3 separate regions of the Homo sapiens genome follow, and regions 1 and 2 are each reported to be linked to region 3. The links are microRNA targets in miRTarBase. Many come from high-throughput screens and were not tested one by one. Region 3 holds a microRNA gene; each other region holds the end of a gene's coding sequence.

Region 1 (3,134 bases), not on the chromosome of region 3:
ACTATATATATATATTTAATTTTTTAATTGAAATATTTTATCCACTACTTAAAAATTGTACAAAGACATAGGATTTAAATTTAATAGTAATACTAAGTAATTTATTACAAATTAGCTAATAACTCTTATATTTGTTTGCCACTTTTTGATTTTCCCTGGTGCTTGAATATATCTCTCTTGTTTGATCTTTACTAACAGAGAACGAGCAATCCAAGAGATGCGTCGACATGGTCTTGCTACACCACCCCTTAGTTCCACTCTGAGGTCTCCTTCACATTCTCCTGAACATAGAAATGTGTAATTATCAGAAAGGTATGTATGTAACACCAAGGACAGGCAAAACTAATCTGTGGTTGTAAAAATTCAGAAAGTAGTTTTCTGCATCAGGAAAGGGGAGATTGCCTGGTAAGGCGTTCAGGAGAACTTCCTGGAGTAATGGAAAAGTTCTATATCTTGGTGATAGTAGTTATGTGGGTATATACAATTGTAAAAATTCATAAAACTGACCATTTACAGTGTATGCTTTTTTTTTTTTTTAAGAGATGGGGTCTCGGCCAGACACAGTGGCCCACACCTGTTATTCCAGCACTTTGGGGAGGCTGAGGCTGGAGGATCACCTAAGGCTAGGAGTTTGAGACAAGCCTGGGCAACACAGTGAGACCTCCACCTCTACAAAAAATACAAAAATTAGCCAGGCATGGTGGCACACACCTGTAGTCCCAGGTACCAGCTGCTGGGGAGGTGGGGGAGGATACTGAGGCAGGGGGATGGCTTGAGCCCGGAAGGTTGAGGCTGCAGTGAACTGTGATTGCACTATTACAGTCCAGTATGCATGACAAAGCAAGCAGCTATCTCCAAAAAAACAAAGAGTTCTCACTATCTTGCCTGGGCTGGCCTCAAACTCCTGGGCTCAAGCAGTCCTCCCACCTCAGCCTCTTGAGTAGCTGGGACTACAGGCTGGTCCATGCATTTTATCGTATATAAATTATACCTGAATTTAAAAAGAGAAGACATCTACAGCATAACGTTAAATGACAATATGAGCTATCACAGGATATTATTTGATGAAGGGCTAAATTCAGGCTACAAATAATAGGTAGTAAAAATGTAGACAAAGCATAGAAACAGTAGTACACATGGTACAGTAGTAACCTGGCAGGAAGGGCAGGCTGTGGGGGAATAATGAGGGAGAGAGGTTTGGAAGGTAGAGTGGGATATATAGAGTATTATATTGAATGTGAAGCTAAATTAGAGATTGTGGACTTTATTCTGTAAGTCAAAAGGAACGTGAACGTCAGTCCTCCTGTGTATAGGATGGGTACAAGGGAAGGGTCAAGATGAAATAACTGTTTCTGGTAGATTAATTTCACAACTGTGTTTGAACCATATTGGAAAGGATAGGAACTAGAGGTAGAGAGACCAGTAAGTGGTATGAAATGAGCAGTATAATAGTTCAGGATTAGTATAATAACATTGAAAGCTAGGACATAATTTTTAAAGTAAACCATGAAATATATACAGAAAGGTACCATATCATAGATACATAGTTCAATGAATTTTTTCAATGAACAAATTGAACACATCCAGGTAACCTGCATGAAAATCAAAAAAAAAAAAAAATAGGCCAGGCACGGTGGCTCACACCTCTGTAATCCCAGCACTTTGGGAGGCCGAGGCGGGTGGATCACTTGAGGTCAGGAGTTCAAGACCAGCCTGGCCAACATGGTGAAACCCCGTCTCTACTAAAAACAGAAAAATTAGCTGGGCATGGTGGCACGCACCTGTAGTCTTAGCTACTTGGGATGCGGAGGCAGGAGAATTGCTTGAACCCAGGAGGCAGAAGTGGCAGTGAGCCCAGATCGCGCCACTGCACTCCAGCTTGGGTGACAGAGTGAGACTCCATCCAAAAAAATAAAATATAAAGCCTGGCACAGGAGACTGAGGTTGCAGGACTACTTGAGCCCAGTTCAAATCCAGTCTGGACAACAAAGCAAAACCCCATCTCAAAAAAACAAAACAAAAACAAAACAAAACTAACTTCTCTTTGGCGTCAGTCATAAGCCCTGGTCTAAAAGTAACTGTCCTGACTGTTAAAAGTGTAGATTTCTTTTTGCTTACTTTTAGACATTTTATAAATGAAATCATGTTCCTGGCTTCTTTTTCTCAACAGTACATTTGTGAGATCCATCCATATTGTTGTGTGTACTTGTAGATTGTTCACTCTTGTTGCTGTGTATGGAATGCCATTATGGAAACTTACTACAATCCAATTACTCCTCCTTCTGTTCATAAGCACTTGGCAGTTTCCAGTTTGGGCTATTACAAATAGTGCTATGGTTATACTTAGAAGTGAAATTGATGGATCACTGGATATGTGTATGTTCAAGCTCTAGGAGATATGGTAAACTGTTTTCCAAAGTAGTTGTAAAGTGCCAGGATGCATTTGACTGAGGAAGGATCAAAGGGATGTGCTGATTCACTGGAGATGGGAATGAGTGGGAAAGAAACATGAGTCAGACCCAGGCTTTGACAGGTAGTGACTGTGGAAAATGCATACTCATTGACAGAAATAGTTATGCCAGTCTTGTTTAAATTGATACATTTCTTTGCCTCTTTTGATAGAAATATATAGAAGATAATTAAACATTTCCTCTGACTCAGAATCCTCATTGTGAACATTAGTTATGTGCTATTCTTTGACGTACTGATGCCCTCAAGTTTGTAGGGCCTTGGTTTAAATGATTCCTGATTGCTCTGCTTCTGCTTTTGTGTTTGATTAGGGCATTTATTTTTCTCTTTCACTTTGAGGACCACTTCTCAGTGTTCACTGTAGTCACTGTGTCCTTCTTGAATTGCTGTGTTATTTTCATGTGATCAGATGGTGGTTCACCTTCTTGTTACAAAGGATTGTAAGAATGTGACACAGACATTTTCTCATGTTTGATTCACAGCTGCAGTTTAGATCAGGGGTTGGTTGGTAAACTAGGATCTGCAAGCCAAATCCATACCACTGCCTATTAGTGTAAATTAAGCTTTATTGGAGCACAGCCACACCCATTTGTTAACAGATTGTCTAAGACTGCTTTACTACAGTGGCAGAGTTGAGTAGTTTTGACAGACCCCATGTCCCACAA
Region 2 (3,134 bases), not on the chromosome of region 3:
CACCTTGACCTGCCTGAGGACTTCCAGGAGATGGGGCTGCTCCGCAGGGAGGCCGACTTCTACCAGGTGCAGCCCCTGATTGAGGCCCTGCAGGAGAAGGAAGTGGAGCTCTCCAAGGCCGAGAAGAATGCCATGCTCAACATCACACTGAACCAGCGTGTGCAGACGGTCCACTTCACTGTGCGCGAGGCACCCCAGATCTACAGCCTCTCCTCTTCCAGCATGGAGGTCTTCAACGCCAACATCTTCAGCACCTCCTGCCTCTTCCTCAAGCTCCTTGGCTCTAAGCTCTTCTACTGCTCCAATGGCAATCTCTCCTCCATCACCAGCCACTTGCAGGACCCCAACCACCTGACTCTGGACTGGGTGGCCAATGTGGAGGGCCTGCCAGAGGAGGAGTACACCAAGCAGAACCTCAAGAGGCTCTGGGTGGTGCCCGCCAACAAGCAGATCAACAGCTTCCAGGTCTTCGTGGAAGAGGTACTGAAAATCGCTCTGAGCGATGGCTTCTGCATCGATTCTTCTCACCCACATGCTCTGGATTTTATGAACAATAAGATTATTCGATTAATACGGTACAGGTAAAAGGACCCCAACAACACTGGAGATGGGGAGTCCCAGGAAGCTCATGTCAGCCAGGTCTTGGAGGGCATCTCGCCAGTGGTGCGAGGCAGGGGACTATACTAATCTGTATTAATTGTGTAGCAGGACTTGATTCCCCCCATGATGAAGTCCACCTTTTGGAATCCAGTGTCCTCTGAACAGAACCACCTTTTTTCTTGCCATTTTGAGCTGCAGACAGGCGGTTTATTATGACAAGTGAAGAGTCAGCTGATGTGTACTAAAGGAGGCCATAGGAGGATTTTCCAGCCAGGACAAAAGAGCAGCAGTTTTCTCCTGGGCTCCATCTCTCTGTACCGCTAGCCAGTGCCGCATTTATCCATCTGTAAGAAGGCCCTGGTGGAGAGGATGGGATGAGAACAAGAGGCTACCTCCAGTTAACCAGGACATAAAGTCCCCAGCGGTTCCTGTCACACCTGCTCCTCCCTCCCCAGGGTGCATCCATGATCGTGGATGTTTGCCCAGGGGTGACCATGTTTGGCTGGCTTGGAATGCTGTGCATTCTCAGAGCTCTGTTAGTGTCCCCTCTTGGGGGTCAGAGATGAGGTGTGGCAGGGTCTAGAGGAATGAGTGTCCAGGCAGAGTTCAGAAGGTAGGAATGTCCCTCTTGATAGGGCTGAATCAAGGGATTCCTGGCTTTAGAAAGGGTCTGCTATCTTTGCAAAAATGTGCAAGTATCTGTAGCCAGTGTAATGAAATCACTTCCAAATCCAGCCTGTTACCTGACTTTTGTCATTGTTTTCCCAAAAATTTGAGGTATCATTGAAACAGGTCATTTTAAACAAATCTATTACGGATTCTCAGGGTTGGAAATAATTCGATGATTGCTTAGTCCTCCCCCACCCCTAGAACACCCCAGCACATCTGAAGATGAGCGCCTCTCCCTGGGTACCTGCAAGTGATCACCTTGGCCTGCTTGCATACCTTGGCTGATAGGAAGCGCGCCATCCCCAAGGCAGCTCCTGCTGTGGTTGGACAGTGCTGACTGTTAGACAGTTCTTCCCTATATTGAGCCAAAATCTGTCCTGCCACTTGCTGGATCTTGGTTGCAGACCTTCCCATTCACCCAGTTATATATCTTTGCTTTCAAAATAGTCACCTTGAGAGACCAGACATTTTTCTGAAAACATCATTACTCAGAATTCAGATTCCCCTCTGGGATCTGTCTTCAGAATCAAAGTTAGCTCTTTTCTATCCCCTGTAAGTCAGTCCCCTTTTGTTGTAGCTTCACCTCGTTTGTGACCCCCACTTCACCCACCTTCCCCACCATCTGTGGCTCCATATACCTTTCGACCATTTTCTGCTGGAAGAGGAAGATTCACGGCCCCTGAGGAGATCCAGAGGAAAGAGACGGTCTCCAAGGGTGCTGTGCAGCAAGGAGCCCAGGAGTGGTATGAACCGTAACAGTGCCCTTAGAGTAAATGTGCGGCCCCTAAGACCCTGCCCTCAGGAAGGCGGCCTTCCCCTGCAGTCCTGTGTCCCACCCCTGGGTCTCTGTAGGGTGCCATCCAGGGCAAGCAACCCAAGCACTGCTTCCCACCGGGTGATGAGCCATGCAGGCCTCCAAACTGCACGTCATGATTCATCCCTAAAGTGAGTTTGGCCTTGAGAGTCCCCAGGGTCCTCCCCCACTGGGCAGGGGTCCTCAAAGCCAAGGAAGCCTGGTGACACAGGCACCCATGGGAGGTGGGCCCAGAAAGGGGCTTCCCATAGATAGGCCCTGTGAGTAGGGAGCTTGTACACTGGGCCATGGGCAGCGCCAGTTCCCTTGAGCAGTAAAGGCCCTTTTCCCCCTACGGTGGGACCCAGGAGTCTCTCTGACAGCTTTTCTGCCAGGCACAGTGGCTCATGCCTGTAATCCCAACACTCTGGGAGGCCGAGGCGGGAAGATCACTTGAGGTCAGGAGTTCAAGACCAGCCTGGCCAACATGGTGAAACGTCGTCTCTGCTAAAAATACAAAAATTAGCTGGGTGTGGTGACAGGCGCCTATAACCCCAGCTATTTGGGAGGCTGAGGCAGTAGAATCGCTTGAACCCAGATAGCAGAGGTTGCAGTGAGCTGAGAGTGTGCCATTGCAGAGAGACTCCATCCCAAAAAAAGACAGCTGTCCCAGGCCAAGGGTACTTGGGAGAGCCCCTCATGGAGAACCTAGTTTAGACCAAGTAGCAGAAGCTGTGGTCATAACAAAACAATTTGAGGAAGAAATCTTACAAATCACCACTGCCCTTTCTCCTTTTCCATAAAACTGTCCATCTTTTCGGTGCTCCCTAATCCAAGCAGCTTGACTTTAGAGAAGTTGCAGAAGCAGTGAAGCCACTAACATGCTGTGTGACTTTATGCAAGTCACTCACCTCACTGAGCCACCTCCATTTCTTCATCTGTGAAATAGGCATAACAGTAATACATAACCCTACCTACCTCACAGGGCTGTTGTGAGGATCAAATGAAATAATGTAACGTGAGAATACAGTATAAATGATAAAGGATTGTTATTCTTTTGTGTCTGCTTGTA
Region 3 (3,134 bases):
ATACATCTGGAGTATAAATGTTAGTGTGGAGTATTAGTAATCATGCCATTATCGTGCCATTTAGTTTAGTTTTATATTAACTCATCCAAATATTGTAAATTTTAGCACCATTCCGACTATAGACACAGATGTATATATTTAAGGCTGATAATAACTTCCTGTATTCTCTAGCTAGTGAACAAGATCTTACTGTTTTATGAGAAAGTTATAATGTTACCAATTCCTTGAAACCAGTAACTAAACTAGTTTTATAAAAATTAAAATAAGCACGGTCTAACTCATACACAATTAACTTAATAGTTAATTTGGTTTTAATTATAGGCTCGTAATACTACATTCATGCCTCACAATTATATAATTCATACATGCATGTATGGATTCTTTTTTCTTTTAAAACTCAATTAGAATAGTTTAATTCCAAAATATTTACTATTGAAACAAAAGCAGTTCGTGAAAAATTTTTCAATAAACTACTTTTTAAATTCTCATGCATATAAATTTGTATTTAGTTTTGAATATTTATGAAGGCCTTTAATGGAGAATATGCATCCTTAGAACTCAGCATTTAAAACATTTATACTAAAGGATCAATATTATTTTTGACTCTTAATTGCATCAGATATTTACAACAAATTCTATATTAATAGGGGGCCCATGCAAGATGTTGCCCATTGGCATAAACCCGTAGATCCGATCTTGTGGTGAAGTGGACCGCACAAGCTCGCTTCTATGGGTCTGTGTCAGTGTGGTAATCTGACAAAATGCTATACACAGTGCCGTTCAACAATAGTTCAGTAAAATCCTGTTAAACTCCAGTTGATTATATACTTTTGAAGTCATTATATTTTCCTTTGTTTTTAATGTTTATTTTAATCATTGTCTGTCTTACAAGGCAGGCTTCAATTCTCAACAACTTGGAAGCGTTTATATCACACCCATTCAAGTTCGATTCCATGTACAGTAAATTGCATAAGAAAGTTGAACCTTTATAGCAGGGTTTGGACCAGGATCTGAATAGATTCTGTTCAGAAACTTCAGTGCATACTGTAGTGCTTAGTGTACCTCTTCAACTTCAGTAAGAAAATTAAAGACTACCATTGGATTTATATGTTTTTATTGAGCCTATTTCTCCTGAAAAAATGAGGCTGAATGCAATTGACTTTTACTATTAATTGCGACTAGAACTATGGCAGGTTAGATGGTCAGAAGACATTTTACGTGACCTATGCTGGAAACCCAAGTGTTTAGGTTAGTCCTATGAGAAACAGTTAGCAGCAAAGTTTACTGGTAAAATGTTAGAATATTATATCTATATCCTTGCCAAGCCCTTAGGTGTATGGCTGCCATATTTGGAGGAGCTGACTGAAGATATGATAAGGAGTTTGAAGCAACATTGGAAGCTGTGTGCATCCGGGTTGAGGTAGTAGGTTGTATGGTTTAGAGTTACACCCTGGGAGTTAACTGTACAACCTTCTAGCTTTCCTTGGAGCACACTTGAGCCGTCGAGGAATTCTTCATCACTTTAACCTGATTGAGCCAATTTGTGTGCAAGAAGGTAATGTGTCATGAGTATCTTGGATCATTGATTTGGGCCTTTATTACATTAAAATGATCATTTCAGCCCTATTAGATTATTCCATTTGTATCTGCTTATGAACAATGTCAAAATGGTATTTCTAATGGGTTGTCACTCCATGTTCAAACATTTTAAGAAAATTGTAGGTAGTGACTTAAATTGCATTAATATTAAAGCTTTTTATCATCTATAGATTAACAAAATTCAGACCTTAATTTTCAAATGGATCATTGGTCTATTTATATTGGCTGCTTAGACACTATAATAAAAAATGTCTGCTAGAGTTAATAGCTCCCATAGCACATTATTTGCGTTTTCCTTATGACACATCACTTTCTACCTTATGTTATGGCTATTTATGTGCTTGCTGATTTTTTCCGCACTAGACTGTAAGCCCCTTGAGGGCAAAGTCCATGTTTTATTTTTCACTGTATCCCCTCCAATGCCTTACTCATAATGAGCACTAACTATTTATTGGATTAGTGAATGGAGTGTAAGACCTCACTCTGTGATGAGTTTCTATTGAATATTTGAATGAGTTATGGCAGTGGTCAAACATCTGAGTTTTATTTATTGCTCCTAAAACTGTTTAAATTTAATTCCTGGACTGCTCCGCATCAGTAATACATGTGTCGATTTTTGACTGTGTTGAATGTGTTCATTCATTCTAAACAGATAAGTTAAAATTTAGAAGTACTTTTTATCTAGAATAAAAATAATAGAGTAAATTCATTTTTACTAATTAGTTCATGACAGTTTATGATCCTACACTTAGATAATTCATATTTCTGTTGAATTTAAATACCTTTCTTTCCAGATGAATCGTTTTTCTTTTAGCATCAATTTCAACTAAATATTCTATTTTAAGTCTCATTTAACAATATGATTTTTAAAAATTAGATTTGTGTCTTTTGTGTATTTCCCTCGTCTCCTGCCCTTTATTTTTGTACAGCTATATCTGTTGAATAAACCAGAAGCAACTAAACCAGAAACATGTCAATAAATTAATAATAAATATGTATATAAAGTATAATTTGAGAATGTGAACACATTTTTGTTTAAAGGAAAGGCACTTTATAATATTCTTTGTGTTACAAAGCAAATGGGACTCTTTGGAACCTTAGTTTGCTGTCAACTTTAGCAGCTGTTAGTGGTGTAATTTGTGTAGTGAGGCTATCTTACATAGATCATCTTTCAGACACAGGATTAAGTAGTTGTTGATGTTAGAACTTTAATTTAAGACTCCAAATATGAAACATGGAATTCATTAAAGAGACGTTTAGATGCAAATATATATTAAGGACCTCAAGATACTGGCTATGTGGTGCTGACCTTTCTAGAATGCTCAGGCATCCAAAATATCTTAATACCTAGAACTTGCTAACAATGTAGTGAAGAAGGAATGGCTACCCCCAACACGTAGAACATGTGAGCCTTAGAAAGTGAATACCAGTCACTTCAAGCAAAATAATTTGATTGGTCTACAGTAGTAAAGACTCTTTCTCTCTGTGAAAGAAAAATATTTGCAAGGACTAATCAAGAAGCAATGAATAAGAGG

What was found. Region 3 holds the annotated microRNA hsa-let-7c-5p (UGAGGUAGUAGGUUGUAUGGUU, at 1,417-1,438, shown strand). A microRNA usually pairs through its seed, bases 2 to 8, with sites in the 3' UTR of a target mRNA and lowers its output. Matches are read on the target gene's strand: a 7mer-m8 pairs with bases 2 to 8, a 7mer-A1 pairs with bases 2 to 7 and ends in A, and an 8mer does both.
Region 1: the mRNA of CEP135 is a reported target of hsa-let-7c-5p. The part of its 3' UTR that is shown has no 7-base or 8-base seed match.
Region 2: miRTarBase lists KCTD21 as a target of hsa-let-7c-5p. Seed matches in the 3' UTR shown: 7mer-m8 at 989-995 and 8mer at 3,037-3,044.

The regions. Positions count from the first base shown.
Region 1 is chr4:56,024,303-56,027,436 of GRCh38, forward strand. CEP135 (centrosomal protein 135) reads left to right here. Exons shown (of 26, transcript NM_025009.5): 25 at 199-312. The coding sequence ends at 301. Among named protein-coding and RNA genes, the nearest start is that of CRACD, 23 kb to the right of the region's middle.
Region 2 is chr11:78,171,223-78,174,356 of GRCh38, reverse strand. It overlaps KCTD21 (potassium channel tetramerization domain containing 21), which reads left to right. Exons shown (of 2, transcript NM_001029859.3): 2 at 1-3,108. The coding sequence ends at 585. KCTD21-AS1 (KCTD21 antisense RNA 1) reads right to left here. Exons shown (of 3, transcript NR_102281.1): 3 at 380-537. Among named protein-coding and RNA genes, the nearest start is that of KCTD21, 16 kb to the left of the region's middle. RefSeq lists an enhancer at 17-518.
Region 3 is chr21:16,538,422-16,541,555 of GRCh38, forward strand. It overlaps MIRLET7C (microRNA let-7c), which reads left to right and starts at 1,407; the gene lies at 1,407-1,490. The region is part of intron 6 of MIR99AHG (mir-99a-let-7c cluster host gene); the gene reads left to right. It overlaps MIR99A (microRNA 99a), which reads left to right and starts at 668; the gene lies at 668-748.